Linked DNA regions of Homo sapiens. The protein of the gene in region 1 purifies or fractionates together with the protein of each later gene. This does not show direct contact. Each region holds a gene or a part of one and is shown in the gene's direction. Other genes may lie near its edges.

Region 1 (5,288 bases):
CACAGAGAACAGGGCCTGGGGACACCACCATGACATCTCTCTGAGGGTTGGTCTGCATCATGGTGGTTCCCAAGTTTGTTTTCCATGGGCACCAGGCTTCATTCCCTTGAAGCTTCATTCCCTCAAAGCCATTCAGTTTCCTCATTGGTAAAATAGAGCTCAATAATCAGGGGGTTATGAAGGTGAAAGGGATTGAGGTGCATAAAGCACTTGGAACCCTGCCTGGCACATAGTATGTGATAGCCCCTCTGACCCATCTTCCAGCTGGGGACTGCATGCTGGGACTGGGAGGAAGATACAGGCAAACTGTCTCATCTGCCGTGTGAGAGGGAATGCCAGGGGCCGCTCAGGGTGCTGACCGAGGGTGGGGCTTCAGACCAGAGAGGCCATGATGACAGGCATGCTGGGCCTTTAGACAAAGGTGGAGCAGCAGCAGAAACATTACCAGAGCAAATGGTGAGGGTGGAGTCTATGGAGGGGACCAAGGGAAGGGGGAAGGGACATCCAGGGTTCTTGGGGGGACCGTGCCCAGCCTGAGATGTCTGTGAAGCCAGGTTAGGGAGGTGGCACTTAAAAACAAGGGGTAAATGTCTTCTCACAGCCATCCGTGGAACTCATGAGGTGGGATGCCTGATGCAAATGGGACTGGAGCACAAAACTGGTGCAGGCAAGGGGGGTGTGGGTCCAAGTAGAAGGGACCAGGGTCCACTGAGGATCACCTGTGTGCCAAGCAGTGCTGAATACCTGGTATGAATCACCTTATTGCATCCTCACAACATCCTGGGTGGCGGGCAGGCCCATTCTCATTTTACAGATATGAAAACCAAGGTTCAGATAGATGAGTTCCATCGATAGCAAGAGGCAGAGCCCAGAGCTTGAGCCATCCTTGCCTGATTGGTGGGGTCCTTTTTCAAAAGGATAAGTCCAGGCTTCTGCTAGTGGGAGACCAGGGGATACAATAAAAAGACCAAGAAACAGAAGAGACATTGTGAGAGGATTTGCCACAGACCTGGCCTGAGAGAGGATGAGAGGGTGGTTTCTTGACGCAGCTGAAAAAACAGGCACCACTGCAAGATGTTGGCTGCCCAGATGTGGGCAAAAAACGGGGAGCTCCTGGGGGGATCTGCAGCCTGCCCCATGGATGTCAAGATTTGCTGGTGATTGAAGAAGCAGGAAGGAAGTGACCTTCTGTTTCTCCCCAGCACCCTTGAAGCACCAGTGGTTGAGCAAGTGGGGTAGGGGAGAGGAAAGAGGAAAAGGCATTTTTTTTTTCTGCAGTGGTGGGCAGGGGGCAGAAACCACAGCCCTGTGGTGTGGGCCTCACACCTTAGTGCTCTGGTGGCCTGATCTCCCAGTGCCCTGCGGGCAGCACAGGATGTGGCTGCTGGTGGAGGTACCAACTGGGCCCTGAACACAGGCCACACACCCCCCATGAGCCTGGGGACAGCATGAAAAGTCTTATTTGTTCATGTGCATATGATGTGCCCTCACGATTGCAGAGTGAACTCCACAAACTCTGAGGTCACTTGGGAATGTTCTTTTTTTTTGAGACGGAGTCTCACTCTGTCGCCCAGGCTGGAGTGCAGTGGCACAATCTTGGCTCACTGCAGCCTCCACCTCCCAGGTTCAAGTGATTCTCCTGCCTCAGCCCCCCAAATAGCTAGGATTACAGGCACCGCCACCATGCCGGGCTAATTTTTTTGTATTTTTAGTAGAGATGGGGTTTCACCATGTTGGCCAGGCTGGTTTTGAACTCCTGACCTCAAGTAATCCGCCCACCTCAGCGTCCCAAAGTGCTAGGATTACAGGCGTGAGCCACCACTCCCAACTGGGAATATTCTTGGGCACCGCACCCATGGGAGCATGAAGGGTGGATGCAATGCAATCATAACAGAGGCCCAAGGTCAGCACTGGGGTGCTTGCCTGTCATCCCAGTGCTTTGGGAGGCCGAGGTGAGTGGATCGTTAGAGCCCAGGAGGTTGAGACCAGCCTGGGCAACATGGCGAAACTCCGTCTCTACAAAAAGATACAAAAATTAGCCAGGCAAGGTGGTGCACACCTGTAGTCCCAGCTACTCAGGAGACTGAGGTGGGAGAATTGCCTGAGCCTGGGGAGGTCGAGGCTGCACTGACCTGTGATCACACCACCACACTCCAGCCTGGGTGACAGTGAGACTCTGCCTCAAAAAAACAAAAAATGAAAAAACCAGAGGCCTCAGCCAATGCCTGGGGGGCTCAGAGTGCAGCTGGCCCTTCAGACGCTGAACCAGTCATCGGTAAAGGTTTCCTCCAGGGGCAGGAGGTGTCCCAGTGGGCAACAGTTCCCCTCTGCCTAGCGTGATTCCTGGGAAGGGACTCAGCTCAGAGCCAACTCCACGTAGCTGGAAATAAGGACCTCTGACCGACTGGGGGTAGGGTGGGGTCTGGGGTGGATCCCTGCCCCACCCCCACAGCATCCCTACAGGCATATCCTACAGGCCTCGAAGGTGCCTGGCACGTGGTGAGAATGGTGCCAGCGGCTGACCCTGGCAGAGGGCCAGGACTTGTCTCCAGCACCCATGTGCGTGTTGCTTTATCCTTGCAGTGATCCCACGTGGTAGCCACTGATATTACCTTCATTTTACAGATAGGGACACTGAAGTCCAGAGAAGTTAAGTAATGTGCCTGAATTCACCAATTAGCACGTGGCTGAGCTGGGGTTTAGCCCAGGCACACTGGCTCCAGAACACGCGCCCTGAACCACTTTGCTAAACATTCGCCCTTGATGCTTGTGGCACCCCTAGCATCTGTGTTTAATGAATATTTGTTGATTAAATGGATGAGGAGCCCACCTGGGTCCTGTGTTGTCATCCCTCTCTTTCCAGGCCATGTGGGAGGAAGGGAGCAGGGGGCTGGGGTGGCAGACTGGGGCCTCCTCCAAGGAGGGGTCGGAAACTAGGTGGGGATGCCAAGAACAGCCCCCGGGCTCTGTTGAGCAGGAGCTGCAGGAGGGGGTTGGGCCCCCGCAGTGCATCTCCGATTCCTCCCCATTCCCCCACAGAGTGTCCACATCAAGAGATGGACATCGTCTTCCTGATTGACGGCTCTGGAAGCATTGACCAAAATGACTTTAACCAGATGAAGGGCTTTGTCCAAGCTGTCATGGGCCAGTTTGAGGGCACTGACACCCTGGTGAAGACTGGGCACCTGGGGCTGGGGTTTGGGGGACGGGGGAGGCTGGCCTCGGGGAGGCATCCCGGGAGGGGTGGGGGCAGGCCAGTGAGCCGTGTGTGATGGGGCTGGGGTGGAGAATGAAGCTATGGTCCCAGCACAGGCCCAACTTGAGCCCTGACCTAGGAGGCCCTCTTGGCATTTAATAATGTATCCAAAAGCTACAGGAAATACAATGTTTCTGCTGTTTAAAAACATTGAAAGTGTTTAAAAAATAATTTTGCTATGGAATTTGACTGACATATTTTCTATGTAACTAATGATTTCTTTTTATTATTTTATTTTCCCATAACTAGTGCCTATGTATGTGCAAAAAAACCCCACTGTTTTGTTTTTTAAACAGGGTCTTGTTCTGTCATCCAGGCTGCAGTGTGGGGGTGCAATCATAGCTCACTGCAGACTTGATCTCCCAGGCTCAAGTGATCCTCTTTCCTCAGCCTCCTGAGTAGATGGGACTACAGGTGCATGCCACCATGCCTGGCTAATTTTTAAAAATTTTTATTGTAGAGATGGGGTCTTGTTATATTGCCCAACCTGGTCTCCAACTCCTGGCTCAAACAACCCTCCCACCTTGGCCTCTCAAAGTGCTGGGATTACAGGCATGAGTCACTACGCCCAGCCACAAATTCTTGAGAAGGGAGGAAATACACAAATTGATTTAATGTGTGATAAAATTTTTAAAAAGCTAAGGGTAGCAAATATTGTGGTTGGCAAAGTTATTTTTAATAAACTGTGAAGGAAATATCATTTGGTTTAGATTTTCCAGTTTATATTTTGTATTTTTGGGCCAATGAATTTTCTTCTCTGGGTTTCAGTATATTATTTGTAGGGCTTCAAAACACATGGGAAATGGTTTGTAAATCCAAAATAATTCCAAAATAAAGTTTATTAAAACTGAAAACAATATGGCTTGGTGTGGTGGCTCACACCTGTAATCCCAGCACTTTGGGAGGCTGAGGTGGGAGTATTGCTTGAGGCCAAGAGTTCGAGACCAGCCTGGGCAACATAGTGAGACCTTGTCTCTACCAAAAACAAAACAAAACAAAAAACAAAGCCAGGCATGTGACGTGTGCCTGTAGTTCCAGCTACTTGGAGGCTGAGGCAGGAGGATCACTTGAGGCCAGGAGTTTGAGAGACCCTGTCTCTACAAAAAATTAAAATAAAAACAATAGTAACAGGCACTGAGCCCTGGGCCCTCCCCACTGGCCTTTGCAGTTTGCACTGATGCAGTACTCAAACCTCCTGAAGATCCACTTCACCTTCACCCAATTCCGGACCAGCCCGAGCCAGCAGAGCCTGGTGGATCCCATCGTCCAACTGAAAGGCCTGACGTTCACGGCCACGGGCATCCTGACAGTGGTGTAAGCAACCCCGACCCCAGCCTGGCGATGTGACTGCCACCCCCACTTCCTAACCCTGGGTCAGCACAGCTCTTCTCAGAGGCTGAGGGAGGCTCCAGGGAAAGGGGCTACCAAGGGGCATGTCGGGGCTGCAGGGAGAACCTCCCCCCGGGGTGCTCCTGGTTGCCTCGCTGCCAGTCTCCCTGATATAGGACTAGGCTCCTCTGCAGCTATGCCTCCCCTTTGCCTGGTTCTGCAGAGCCTGGACCCCAGGACCCCTCCCCACCCCACAGCAGCCAGAGGCCCGGGCTTTGGCTCAGACACATCAGGCTCCCATCCTGGCTCCCCGTGAGCTACTCTGGGTGTAACCCTGGGGTGATGGGCTCTAAGTCTCAGTAACTCTCAGATGAAGATAAGCTCACAGCTTAGGATTGAGATCATGTGTGTGGGGTGCTCAGCCCGGGGCACGTAGGAGGTGTCGGATAAATGCCTGAGGTTTTATCAGAGAATGGAGTAGTCAGGGACTCAGGAATTGTCACCCAAGGTCGTCCTGGTGCCTTTCTCCCCACTCACCTCCTCTCCCGCATCCCTCACCCCTGCGCACCCCCTGTGCTACCCAGGCACTCACCGTGGGCCTGCCCCGTGCACATGCAGTCTATTCCTAAAACGATGTAGGAGGTGGGACCCCCGAGAAAGGCATGTGGTTCTTGTAGGAAGGAGCTGGGCTGACGGTCGGGGA
Region 2 (4,393 bases), on another chromosome or scaffold:
CCCAGTCCTGTGCTGTACCTTTGCAGCCCTGGCTGGCAGCCTTGCCTGCTGCCCCCATCCTCACCGCTTCCTGAGCTCCCACCCGTGGAAGCTGGCCACAGTCTCCTCTGGCCATGTCCTCAACCCGTGAGCACCCCGCCGAGTATCCCTTGACCAGGGGGGCCCCAGAGAGGGGAAAGTGTCCCCCAGATGGAAAAGGCAGGGGCGGGCATGGGAGGGCCCAGGCAGTTGTGAGAAGCCCAGCCCCTCGCCCCCACGGCGGTGCAGCAGGCAGGTCTGAGCAGGGCCCGCAGCCTGTCATCTGCACCTGGGCCTGAGCCAGCGTGGCCCCACATCGCTACCTGAGGATGTGTTTTCTGCTCGAGTTGGCAGCAGTGGGTGTGGGGGCAGGGAGGTCTTGGAGGAATGTGGCGGGCTATCGCGTGTCCGCCCTGGCTCTTCGCCCCGCGGGCCAGCCGGTCAGGTGTGGGATGGGACCGGGTAGGCCCTTGCCTTCCTTGGAGTCCGGGCACTGGGTTTCGGGGCCAGCTCACCTCCCTGCCTCTTGCTTCCAGCCGGTTCCTCGAATGCCCCAGGAGGGGGCAGGCGGCCTGTCTCTGGGTTGGGGGCCAGGGCAGAGTCATAGCTGCGTGTTTGGGGGCAGCCCTGGTCTCCTGCCATGTGGCCTGGCTGCCGGGCGGGAGCTGTGCCGTGATGCCAGCACCCTGGTATTTGCACTCGGGCGGCGGCAGTCCCTGGCCATGCTGCCCTGGCTTGCTGAGGTCCAGCTCTGTGCGGTGAGCTGAGGTGTACTTGGCTGTGATGGGAAGGCAAGGACCGAGTTCAGGCTCCCTGGGACCTGAGGAGGGGTTTCAGCCTGGAGGCTAGGGTGGCATCCTGCCCAGGCCCGTGGGGCTTTTGGGCTCCTTGGAGTAAAGGGAATGAGAGGGCCTTGTGGAAGAGGAGTGGGGGAGTCTGGGCTCTGCATTCGCTCCCTCCACCCCCTGCCCCCTGAGTGACTCTCCCACCTTGTGGTCTCTGCTGTTGACCCAGGCCTGGCTGGGTGGCCCTCTGCCCCCTGGCCTGGCTTCTTGTGGCCGGGGTCTGTGTGCTATTAGTCATGGATCTGTGCTGGTCTCGGGCTCAGCTTCCCTCAGTGGGTGGGCCCAGGGTCTTGAATGTGGAGAGGTGGTGGACCACATGCCAGCAGGCTGCCTGGCTGCCCCTCCTCTCCTGGCTCCACCCCCAGACGTCCCCAGGAGGCCGGTGTCAGCCTGGGTTGGTTCTGGTGCCTGGCTTGTAGCTGGCAGGGTGAGGCCACATTCTCCCAGCTGCGTGTGTGCACGCACCCCGGGTGCTCTGTAGGCATGGCAGGTGGTGATGGAGGTTTGGGGAGGAGTAGTGTCATGCTGGGGGCAGCAGGGAGCTTTGCTCTGGGGCCTGGTAGGTGGCAGGCCCAGGGGACACCTGCTGGCTGAGGGAGGAGCAGGGTGGTGGCAGTTGGCCGTGACCTGGGCAGCCAGGGCCCCACCCTCAGAGGTGCAGCTGGAAGTCGTGCCTGCCTGGCTGGCCCATCTCTGGAGCCAGGAGCCCAGGAGCCTGCCTGCCAGCGAGGGTCTTTCTTGTTCTGTCTTGGCATGTGTGTGCTGGGCTCCAGGGCAGCTGTGCGGGGTGGTGTGGCTGGAGCATGGTCCCCGTGACAGATCTGGGCTTATGAGGAGAACGGGATGGGTGAAGGCCCTGTAGATACAGGAGGTGGGCCTGGGGCTGACCCTGCGTCTATCAGCTCAGGAGGCCTGAGGTCCTGGGCCATCAGAAGGGCTGAGCTTTTCTCACCTGTGAAAGGGGCACACTGCCGCTTTTTCATTGCAGGTCTCACGAAGTCAGATGGGGCTGCTGGACTCCCAGCTCGGGCTCTGCTTGTGCCCCCAGCCCGGCTCCCAGACCTGTCCAGTTCCTCCCCTTCCCAGCCTTCCCTACCCTCTCCTTTGCCCCCTAGGGAGGAAGGTTTTTACAGAGCCCACCCCCTGCATCCAGCCGCCCTAGGGCTCAAGGTGGGCCAGGCTGAGGTCTGTGCCTGGAGCTACCTAAGCTGCTCGTGGCAGGTGTGAGGTTCAGCACCACTCTGCTTCCTGTTTTTTCTGAGCTTGGGCTGGGGATGACAGGGCCCTGGCCTCCCCACCCTACCTTCAGGGGATCCTGTCTGCACACTGGGGACCACCCCCCTCCTTCCCACACCTTCCCAGTAGGGACCAGGAGAGCTGGCTGGTCTGGTATGGAATGTGGGCATCTGGGTTCCTGTGTTGGGTGGGCATCGGTCTGTTCCTCCTGCCATGGCCCTGGGGCCCAGAGCCCTGGGGAGAACTCAGGGCATGTCCGCCTTGTACATTGGGGGTCTGGTTCAAAGCTTTGGTATGGGGGCAGGGTGGGGCATTCAGTGCCCAGGCAACACGGGGACCATTGGAGCCAGGGAGGACTGCCCTTGGCCAGGGAGGATTGGAGAGTGGGCTGGGGGTTTGTCGCTGGTCCCTGAGGGTGGGCTGAAGGGTCAAAGCCGCAGCACGATAGGAAGGCTGGGAGGTGGAGGGGCGGGTTGGGGAGCAGGCGGCAGGCCTGGGTGGGAGGGGACTGCTGCTCTCAGGGGCCCTCCTGGGCTGCTCCATGGTGTCTTTATGAGGGGAGCAAGCTAGGCCAGTGAAGGGGTGCTTGTGGAGCCAGGCTTCGGCCTGAGCTGCTGCTGGTGGTGGAGTGGGGGCAGGAAGACAAGGATCTGCAATCCCAGGCCCCAGCCACAGTCGCTATCCCCAGACCCCAGGCCTGAGCGGGGTCCCTGTCCCCAGACCCTAGGCCTGATTGGAGTCCCTGTCCCTAGACCCCAGGCCTGAGTGGGGCCCCTATCCTCAGGCCCCAGGCCTGAGCTGGGTCCCTGTCCCCAGGTCCCAGGACTGAGCAGGGTCCCTGTCTGCAGACCTGAGGCCTAAGCAGGGTCCCTGTCCCCAGACCCCAGATCTGAGTGAGGTCACTGTCCCCAGACCACAGGCCTGAGCGGAGTCCCTGTCCTCAAGACCACAGGCCTGAGCGGAGGCCCTGTCCCCAGACCACAGGCCTGAGCGGAGTCCCTGTCCCCAGACCACAGGCCTGAGCGGGATTCCTATCCCCACATCCCAGGCCTGAGCAGGGTGTGGCTGGCATCAGTTGTACCCTGGGCTTTGTGGCAGGTGCTAGCCGGCCCTGGCTGCCACCGTCTTCACGGTGGGGGACCTGGGACCTAGAGGGGGTGTGCTGGGGAGTGGGGGTACACCCAGGCAAGGCCCTGGCTGGTCTCTGGTGTGGAGCATGGGTGTGTGTGTTCCTGCGTGGGATGGGCTTTGGTCTGCTCCTCCTGCTGCGGCCCTGGGGCCCAGAGCCCTGGGGATGGTGTTTGCCCCCACCCCTTCTTCCCTGCCTCGGGTGACAATGGTGGCAGAGGCCTGGGCCTCTCAGAAGCTCAGGTTTCAGGAAATGTATCTGTGCTTGGAGCTCCTGGCGCCTGCACCAAGCGCTGTGCTCCGTAGGGGGCGGGAGGCTGATGCGGGAGGCCGAGGAGAAGAAACCAAGTCGGGGCGTTGGTGGGGCAGCAGGTCTAGGAGGCTGTGTTGTGTTGGCCTGGACCGTGCAGGGCCCTGGACCTGGGGGGGCCGTTAGCGGGGCAGCAGGGAGGCTGTGTTGGCCTTGACCGTGCAGGGCCCTAGACTTGGGTTGCCTGAGTTTTGGGATGCTGTAGATTGGGGTACAGTGGGCAGTGGGGTGCCGTGGACTTAGGGTGCTTGGCATTTGGAGTACCCTGGGCCATGAGGTGTGCTGGGCCATGCAGTGCCCTGGGCTGGGGGTGCCCTGGACCTGGAGTGCCCTGAGCTTTGGGGTGCCCTGGACTGTGGGTACACTGGGCCATGGGGTGCACAAGGCTGTGGGGTGTACTGGATCTAGGGTGCCCTGGGCAGGAGGGTACTCTGTACTTTGGGTGCCTTGGACCTGAGGTGTCCTGGGCTTTAAGGTGCCCTGGACCTTGGGGTGTGCTGGGCCATGCAGTGCTTTGGGGCTCTGGGGTACCCTGGGCTTTGGGGTGCCCTGGAACTGGGGTGCCCTGGGTCTTGGAGTATGCTGGGCCATGCAGTGCCCTGGGCTGTGGGATACTCTGGGCTTTGGGGTGCCCTGGACCTGGGGTACCCTGGGCTTTGAGGTGCCCTGGCCTGGGGTGGAACATCTATTGTCTTGTCTGCCTGTCCTCTGGCTTGTGCCACTGCTGTTGCCCCTGCCTGGGGACAGGAGGAGGGGTTTAGACTTAGCCTTGAGGGTTCGGGCTGGGGAGGAGGCAATCAGATGGTGGGAGATGAAGTTGGGCTGCGGGTCTGCTTGTGCGGTGGGGGTGGGTCAG
Region 3 (4,393 bases), on another chromosome or scaffold:
GGCATGCGCAGTCAGGCCCAGCTAATTTTTGTATTTTTTTGTAGAGACAGGTTTTCACCGTGTTGCCTGGGCTAGTCTTGAACTTCTGCGCTCTGGTGATCCACCTGCCTCAGCCTCCCAAAGTGTTTCAGATTACAGGTGTGAGCCACTGCAACCGGCCAGGTTTGAGCTCTTAAGTTTAGATCTCTGATCTTTATATACTTATTATTATTTTTTTTTATAGAGATGGAGTCTTGCTGTGTTGCCCAGGCTGGTCTTGAACTCCTTGGCTCAAGCAAACCTCCCATGATGGCCTCCCAAGGTGCTGGGACTACAGGTATGAGCTACTGCACCTGGCCTCTTTACTTTTCAAATTAAACTTTTTATTTTGACATAATTATAAATTCACATGCCGTTGCAGGAAATAATACAGAGATCCTAGGTGCCCTTGGGTTTTGTTTTTTTATTTAGCATTTAGTCCATTTACATTTAATGAAATATGATACATTTGGGTTTAATCTGCTATCTTACTCTATATATTCAAATTGCCTATTCTCTGTTCATTTTTCTCTCTAGTCTTCTTTTAGGTTAATTTTTATTATCCTATTTTTCCTCTTCTATTAGCTTGAAAGTTATATGCTCTTTTCTCAGTTTTAAGTGGTCACCCTAGAATTTAAAGCAGGCATTCATGTTGTACCAAAGACTAATGATAATGTGTACTTTACCTTCTTCCTGGACAGTGCAAGGATCCTAACACACTTTAACTCCATTTATTGTTGTCATTTGTTTTAATTATTTCTGTTTTAAATCACACAACCCATTGTTTTGTGCAGTCAGATATTTAGATTTTCACCCTTATAGTCACTGTATTTGTTGTTCTTCGTTCCTTCTGGAATCTGACTTTACATCTGGATGGGGATCATTTTCTTTCTCCCTGAAGAATGAAAGTGTGAGTCTGCTAATGAATTCTTTTGGTTTTTGTTTGTTTGTCTCAAAATATCTTTATTTTACCTTCATTCTTGAAGGATACATTTGCTGAGTATAGAATCCCATGCTGGCTGTTACCTTCCTGTATCTCCAAACATATCAGTCATCTGCCTTCTTGCTCCCGCTGTTCCCGCCGTGAAGCCGGGTGTCAGGCTGATTATTGCTCCTGTGAGAGTCATTGCCTTTTTTCCCTCTGGTTCCTTTTTCTTTAAGATTATTATTTTTTTTATGGCCGGGCGCGGTGGCTCACGCCTGTAATCCCAGCACTTTGGGAGGCCGAGACGGGCGGATCACCTTAGGTCGGGAGTTCAAGACCAGCCTGACCAACATGGAGAAACCCCGTCTCTACTAAAAATACAAAATTAGCCAGGCGTAGTGGCGCATGCCTGTAATCCCAGCTCCTCAGGAGGCTGAGGCAGGAGAATCGCTTGAACCCAGGAGGCAGAGGTTGCAGTGAGCCAAGATCACGCCATTGCACTCCAGCCTGGGCAACAAGAGCGAAACTCTGTCTCACAAAAAAAAAAAAAAAAAGAAAAAAAAAGGCTGGGCGTGGTGGCTCACATCTGTAATCTCAGCACTTTGGGAGGCTGAGGTGGGCGGATCACAAGGTCAGGAGATCGTGACCATCCTGGCTAACACGGTGAAACCCTGTCTCTACTAAAAATACAAAAAAATTAGCCGGGTGTGGTGGCGGGCGCCTGTAGTCCCAACTACTGGGGAGGCTGAGGCAGGAGAATGGCGTGAACCCGGGAGGCAGAGCTCGCAGTGAGCAGAGATTGTGCCACTGCACTCCAGCCTGGGCGACAGAGTGAGTCTGATTTTTTTTGAGAAAGAGTCTCACTCTGTTGCCCAGGCTGGAATGCAGTGGCACAATCTCGGCTCACTGCAACCTCCACCTCCCAGATTCAAGCAGTTCTCCCGCCTCAGCCTCCCAAGTAGCTGGAATTACAGGCATGTACCACCACGCCTGGCTAATTTTTGTATTTTTAGTAGAGACGGGGTTTCACCATGTTGGCCAGGCTGGCCTCAACCTCAAGTGATCCACCTGCCTCAGCCTCCCAAAGTGCTGAGATTACAGGCGTGAGCCACTGCACCCGGCCAAGATTCTCTGTTTTTAAGGAGAACAATAGACACTCCAGACTAGATGGGGGAGGACGTGGGTTGAAAAACTACCTATTGGGTACTGTTCTCCCTGCCTGGGTGCAGTATACCCATGTAACCTGCACATGTAGCCCCTGTATCTAAAATAAAAGTTGAAATTGAAAAGAAAGAAAAAATGCTTTTGTGGCACACGTTCTCAGGATTGCCTGGGGCTGTACCACGGGGAAAAAAATTAGAAAAAAATAGTTTCATGTTAAAAAAAACTTTTTTGTTGTTGTTGCTGTTTCCTCTATCCCTCCCTTCTTTTTTTGTGCCTAAATATGGTTTTCTTTTTAGTCATCTCCTTTGGTTTGTAGGACTTTTCAAGTTTGTGGCGTGTCTTTGAATCAGTTTTAGTAAGTGCTTAGACGTCTTTAAATATTCCTTTGCCTTCATTTCTCACATCTTACTCGGGAATCCCAATTATATGAGTCTTAGCCTCTCTCACTGTTTCCTCTGTCTCTTACCCACAATTCTATATCTTCCATTCTTTTGTGCTCTCGGGGACTCGGCCTAGGTTTTGTTATCTGGGTTCCTGGTGCCCAGAGTGGGAGCAGTGAGTCTGTGGCATCAATGAATGCATGAAGCATATTGCTCAAATTGGGGTACAGTGTTTTTTATTTTTCTGTGATCACAGAAGTAATATGTTTATTATACATTATTCAAACATGGTAAACAGTCGCCATAATCCCCCTCCCAGAATTACCCATCATTAATACTGGTTCATGTTCCTTTACTCCTGTATTCATTTCTCTTCATGCTCATCTGCATTGGACGTTAATGGTCTTTTTCACAGTTGCCAGTCTGACAGGTCAACATCCTGTTTGGGTTTGCCTTTGTGATGGGTCTTTGTTTAATCACTTGCTTACATACCCATCTGCAGACTTCCTGAAAGTGGATTCTTGTCACCGTGTGTGTTGACACCTTAGTTTTCACAAGCGACTTCCTGATGCCTAAGGCAAGGCTTTCTCCCTTGGCGTAGGCGGTGCCCATCCCTGCCCCAGCTCACATGGTGGTGCCCTTGAGTCCCAGAGCACGACCCTGACCAGCTCTCATCCCCAGCGCTGGTACCACACTTAGGCTGGGCTGGGGAGGTGAACTGGTGAAGGGCTGGGTTTTGGAGTCAGCCAGACCTGGGCTTGAGGCCAGCAGCACTGACCCGGCCTGATTTTCCTCACTTGGGAAGGTTGGTTAGCAGGGTGGATGTGGCAGTGGATGTGGGTGACCAGAAAGGGGCTGGTGCAATTTATGTGAAAGGCCTGCAGGCCGCGGGAAGTACTGAAGGCAGAGCAGAGCTCTCGGAGTCAGAAAACCCTGCATGTGAATCCAGACAGTCCGCTGAGCAGAGCTCTCGGAGTCAGAAAGCCCTGCGCGTGAGTCCAGACAGTCCACTGAGCTGCTCTGGACAAGTTGTTACACCTCTGAATTTGTTTTCCTGTAAAATACTTTGCTCAAATAGGAGTTGTAACGTCTGCAGAAGGTTCCAGGGCAAGAGCAGTGGATGGAGAGGAAATGGCTGGTGGGTTTGGCTGGTAATGAGGGTGAACAGTGTGGCAGCCACCTAAACCTACTCAGGAGCAGCCTGAGGTCTGCTGGCGGGGTCTGGGCCTCAGGCAGCCTTGGAACACTGGCCTCCCCCACCTCACCTGGTGCCCAACAGTCTCTTCCCTTCACGGCCAGAACATTTAGGGGTCTGTGGTCAGTGGCACTTGTGGCCCTGTGCCAAGGAGTGCCCAGTCTTAGCTGGGGAGAGAAGAGAGGTCTGTGGGGCAGGGGCCGTGCTGGGGTTGCCTCCAGCTTGCTGGAAGGCCCTGGGGAGCTCTGAGCAGCCCATTCTGCTCTCCCTCCAGCCGTGCTTCCTCAAAGACTGGGAAATGCACGTCCACTTCAAAGTCCACGGCACAGGGAAGAAGAACCTCCATGGAGACGGCATCGCCTTGTGGTACACCCGGGACCGCCTCGTGCCAGGTGGGCTGGTGTTCGCTCAGCTGGGCCCTGTGGGGGTGGGCACGGGCATGGCTGCTGGCCCCCTAGGGAGGTGGGGTGGGGCTGCCTGTGGCTCGTGGGGACCAGCGTCTCCTCTCCTGTTAGGAAAGTGCTGCCTCCCGTGGATAAAGTCCTGCGCCTCCGGAAGGAGCCTGGCTCTGGAAGGAAGGTCACTGAGGGGAGAGGAGCAGCTGGGTCCTGCAGCTCAACCCTACACCCTCATTGGCCTGGTTTTACCATTTTAAACAGTTATTGTTGTAAAAAAGCCAAAACATGAAGACTGTGTGGCTGTGACTGCATG
Region 4 (4,393 bases), on another chromosome or scaffold:
TCGAGACCAGCCAGGGCAACATTGAGACCTTATCTCTACAAAAATAAAAAACTTAGCCAGGCCTGCACCTGTTAAGTGACAGCTAATTGGGAGGCTGAGGCAAGAGAATCACTTGAGCCCAGGAGTTCAAGGCTATGGTGAGTTATGATGGCACCACTGCATTCCAGCCTGGGCAACAGAGTGAGACCCTGTCTCTAAAAAAGTAAACAAATATGCCATAGTAATAAGTACTGTAAAGAGGAATAAAACAAGTGCTATTTTATTTTATTTTTAAATTTTTGTATTTTTTGTAGAGTTGGGGTTTTGCAGTGTTGCCCAGGCTGGTCTTGAACTCCTGAGCTCAAGCAATCCACCCACCTCGGCCTCCGAAAGTGCTGGGATACAGGCATGAACCGCTGCGCCCAGTCCAAAAGTGAGTGCTATTTTAGACAGTCTAGTCAGGGAGGGCTGCTCTGAGGAGGTGATATTTGAGCAGAGACCATAAGAAACTTGCCTGGTGTTTATTCCGTATCTCTTGCATTTAGCTTGATACTGATGGACATTGTGTGGGCCAGAGGCAGGGATGGTTGGCTATGACCCCAAACCAGATGGCAGGAATAACACCAAGTTCCAGGTGGCAGTGGCTGGGTCTGTGTCTGGACTTGTTACTCGGGCGCTGATCAGTCCCTTCGACGTCATCAAGATCCGTTTCCAGGTACTCTTCCCCTTTTTCCATGCAATGGACTGGAGGACAAGTTCAGTCTTTCTTGCAAAAGCAGTTCCTAAAACTTGGAATTCTATCCAGATGAAGGGCTTGCCTTTTCTGAAAGTTCCCCTTCACATTCCAGCCCACCCCACTGTCCTGACCTTTTTTATTTTGATTCCTAGCTTCAGCATGAGCGCCTGTCTCGCAGTGACCCCAGCGCAAAGTACCATGGCATCCTCCAGGCCTCTAGGCAGATTCTGCAGGAGGAGGGTCCGACAGCTTTCTGGAAAGGACACGTCCCAGCTCAGATTCTCTCCATAGGCTATGGAGCTGTCCAAGTAGGTGGCAAGGGACCTGGCCAGACCTCTGGGGTCACGTTGCTCAGTGGAGGAGCAGAGGGAGGGTGAGGCAAGCAGGAATGCCGCGCAGGGCAGGACGGAAGAGGCAGGCCCCACGCTTCCCACCTGCCTCACCCGGGAGCCTTCCTGACCAGCAGTACCGTAGGCATTGCCCTCCGCCATGTCCCTGCGTCTATCCTGTGTGACTTAGGTGTTGCATCTTGGAGACCGATTTGATGTCATGCCTTCTGTGAGGCTTGGCGAAGGACAGCACTAATGCATTTCAGTTTTTGAAATACCACCTTCACATATGTGGTTCATCTGAACTTCACCACACCGTCATGAGGAGGGCAGGGTAGCTGTCATGTGGATCTCAGGGAGGAGAAGTCAGCTGTCCGAGGCCACACAGCCTGCACATGGCGGGGCTAGGGTTAGAACTCATGCTTCGTTCAGTGGAGCACTAGTATAGTCATAGTGCACAGCATGTGATTTTATGCAGTAGATGTGTTTAAGAACCAGCCCTGTACAGTGCAAACCATGGGCCAGGCCCCTGTTGGAAGCACTTCACATACACTCTGTCACAGCAGTCCTTAAGGTAGGGGCTGTTGTCCCTCCCATGTCATGCATGAGAAGACTGAGGTGGACAGAGCTTACATAATTAACCCAACCAAAGCCACTGGCTAGAAAATGGCAGAGCCACGACCCCCACCTAGGCAGCTAGTGCCAGAGATGTCCCTTCCTACTCTTCCTGTGACATCACAGTGACCGCCCAAGTCAGGTGCTTACTGGCTGGGCATGCCCTGCGATCCTGTCTCTGCACTTGTCTGCAAACAGATATTGCAGCATGACGAATAAATACAGCAACAGGATAGTCTCAAGAAGCCAGGCGTGGGCTGGACTCAGTGGCTCACACCTGTAATCCCAGCATCTGAGCCCGGGAGGCGGAGGCTGCAGTGAGCCACGATCATGCCACTGCACTTCAGCCTGGGCAACACAGCCAGACCCTGTCTCAAAAAAAGAAAAGAAGCCAGGCCATCTTCAGTTGGCTGAAGGAAGATCTGAGCATAGCCCTGGTATAGTGGCTCACACCTGTAATCCCATCACTTTGGGAGGCTGAGGTGGGAGGATGGCTTGAGCTCAGGAGTTTGAGACCAGCCTGGGCAACATTAGGGAGACCTCCTCTCTACTAAAAATAAAAAATAAATTAGCCAGATATGGTGGTACACACCTGTCGTCCCAGCTATTCCAGAGGCAGGAGAATAATTTGAGCTAGAGAAGTCAAGGCTGCTGTGAACTGTGATCGAGCCACTGCACTCCAGCCTGGGCAACTGAGCACGACCTTGCCTCAAAAAGCAAAACAGGGCCAAGCTCGGTGGCTCATGTGTGTAATCTCAGCCCTTTGGGAGCCCAAGGCGGGCAGATTGCTTGAGCTCAGGAGTTTGAGACCAGCCTTGGCAACATAGTGAAACCCTGGTTCTACAAAAAATACCAAAATTAGCTGGACATGGTGGCATGCGCCTGTAATCCCAGCTACTTGAGGAGCTGAGGTGAGAGGATCACTGGAGCCCAGGAGGTTGAGGCTGCAGTGAGCCGTGTTTGTGCCACTGTACTCCAGCCTGGGTGACAGAGAGACACTCTTGTCCCTAAAAAAAAAAAAAAAAAAAAAAAAAGAAAGATCTGAATGTAAGGGGGTCACCCTGTGGAACATGCTCCCAAAAGAATCTGCCCCAGAAAAGAATGATTCTCGAACAGTGCCGCCACCAGGTGCCGCCGCCAGCTGCACTGAAGGGGTCCCTGCAGGAATCAGAGCATGGCCGTCTTCCCCAGTTCTCAGAAAACTAAGTTAGCCAGTGACATTTTCTGATATACATTGTTCTCATGTATCTTTTTTATTTTTTCTTGAGACAGAGTCTCACTCTGTTGCCCAGGCTGGAGTGCAGTGGCGCAATCTCAGCTCACTGCAACCTCCGCCTCCTGGGTTCAGGCGATTCTTCTGCCTCAGCCTCCCAAGTAGCTGGGGTTACAGGCCCACGCCACCATGCCTGGCTAATTTTTGTATTTTTAGTAGAGACAGGGTTCCACCATATTGGCCAGGCTGGTCTCCAACTCCTGACCTCATGATCTGCCCACCTCGGCCTTCCAAAGTGCTGGGATTACAGGCGTGGGCCACTGCACCCAGTCTTTTTTTTGAGACCGAGTCTTGCTCTGTCGCCCGGGCTGGAGAGCGCAGTGGCATGATCTTGGCTCAGTGCAGCTCTGCCTCCCGGGTTCAAGTGATTCTCCTGCCTCAGCCCCCCAAGTACCTGGGACTACAGGTGCCCGCCACCATGCCTGACTAATTTTTGTATTTTTAGTAAAGACAGGGTTTCACTATGTTGACCCGGCTGGTCTCGAACTTGTGACCTCGTGATCTGCCCGCCTCGGCCCCCCAGAGTGCTGGGATTACAAGTGTGAGCCACTGCACCTGGCCCCCATATATCTTCTTAACCCTTTGAGTGTCTGACTCTACTCAAGTATCAAATGGCATCCGAGTTTTGCGTAGAATGTTGTATTTATCATATGCTGTCACTGCTCAAGAAGAACATTTCCTGACCTTTTCCTCGCCCCTCCACCTGGGCCCCAGCCGGGTCACGGGTGATGTATTTGGGGAGTATTTGGTCCTCACCCTCATCCTTTGGGCTGTCGGTGACTTCTTCACTTACTCTTGCAGTTCTTGTCATTTGAAATGCTGACGGAGCTGGTCCACAGAGGCAGCGTGTATGACGCCCGGGAATTCTCAGTGCACTTTGTATGTGGTGGCCTGGCTGCCTGTATGGCCACCCTCACTGTGCACCCCGTGGATGTTCTGCGCACCCGCTTTGCAGCTCAGGGTGAGCCCAAGGTGAGTGGCCAGGAGCCAGACCGGGGAAGCCCAAATAAGGAAGGTGTTGTCACAGGGGTAGCATTCTTTATTTTTTATTTATTTATTTATTTATTTTTGTTTTGTTCTGTTTTGTTTTGTTTGAGACAGAATCTCGCTCTGTCATGCAGGCTGGAGTGCAGTGGTGCGATCTTGGCTTACTGCAAGCTCCACCTCCCGAGTTCAAGCGATTCTCCTGCCTCAGCCTCCCGAGTAGCTGGGATTACAGGCACCCGCCACCACGCCTGGCTAATTTTTTTTGTATTTTTAGTAGAGACGGGGTTTCACCATGTTAGCCAGGATGGTCTCGATCTCCTGACCTCACGATCCGCCCGCCTCGGCCTCCCAAAGTGCTAGGATTACAGGCATGAGCCACTGCGCCCGGCCTATTTTTTATTTATTTATTTATTTATTTTGAGACAGAGTCTCGCTCTGTTGCCAGGCTGGAGTGCAGTGGTGCGATCTATTTTT

Evidence for each region.
Region 2: the proteins of ITGAD (region 1) and JAG2 purify together in Homo sapiens (affinity purification with mass spectrometry; one large-scale study listed by BioGRID and IntAct). This does not show direct contact.
Region 3: the proteins of ITGAD (region 1) and LMAN2 purify together in Homo sapiens (affinity purification with mass spectrometry; one large-scale study listed by BioGRID and IntAct). This does not show direct contact.
Region 4: the proteins of ITGAD (region 1) and SLC25A19 purify together in Homo sapiens (affinity purification with mass spectrometry; one large-scale study listed by BioGRID and IntAct). This does not show direct contact.

Annotation. Positions count from the first base shown.
Region 1 is NC_000016.10:31,399,076-31,404,363, forward strand, and holds part of ITGAD (integrin alpha-D isoform 2 precursor), read left to right. Parts: intron 1-3,039; coding exon 3,040-3,170; intron 3,171-4,424; coding exon 4,425-4,570; intron 4,571-5,288.
Region 2 is NC_000014.9:105,162,277-105,166,669, reverse strand, and holds part of JAG2 (protein jagged-2 isoform a precursor), read left to right. Parts: intron 1-4,393. UniProt on the Homo sapiens protein: Putative Notch ligand involved in the mediation of Notch signaling. Involved in limb development.
Region 3 is NC_000005.10:177,338,169-177,342,561, reverse strand, and holds part of LMAN2 (vesicular integral-membrane protein VIP36 precursor), read left to right. Parts: intron 1-3,956; coding exon 3,957-4,074; intron 4,075-4,393. UniProt on the Homo sapiens protein: Plays a role as an intracellular lectin in the early secretory pathway. Interacts with N-acetyl-D-galactosamine and high-mannose type glycans and may also bind to O-linked glycans.
Region 4 is NC_000017.11:75,282,934-75,287,326, reverse strand, and holds part of SLC25A19 (mitochondrial thiamine pyrophosphate carrier), read left to right. Parts: exon of another isoform or gene 1-412; intron 413-524; 5' UTR 525-562; coding exon 563-694; intron 695-867; coding exon 868-1,023; intron 1,024-3,733; coding exon 3,734-3,904; intron 3,905-4,393. UniProt on the Homo sapiens protein: Mitochondrial transporter mediating uptake of thiamine diphosphate into mitochondria. It is not clear if the antiporter activity is affected by the membrane potential or by the proton electrochemical gradient.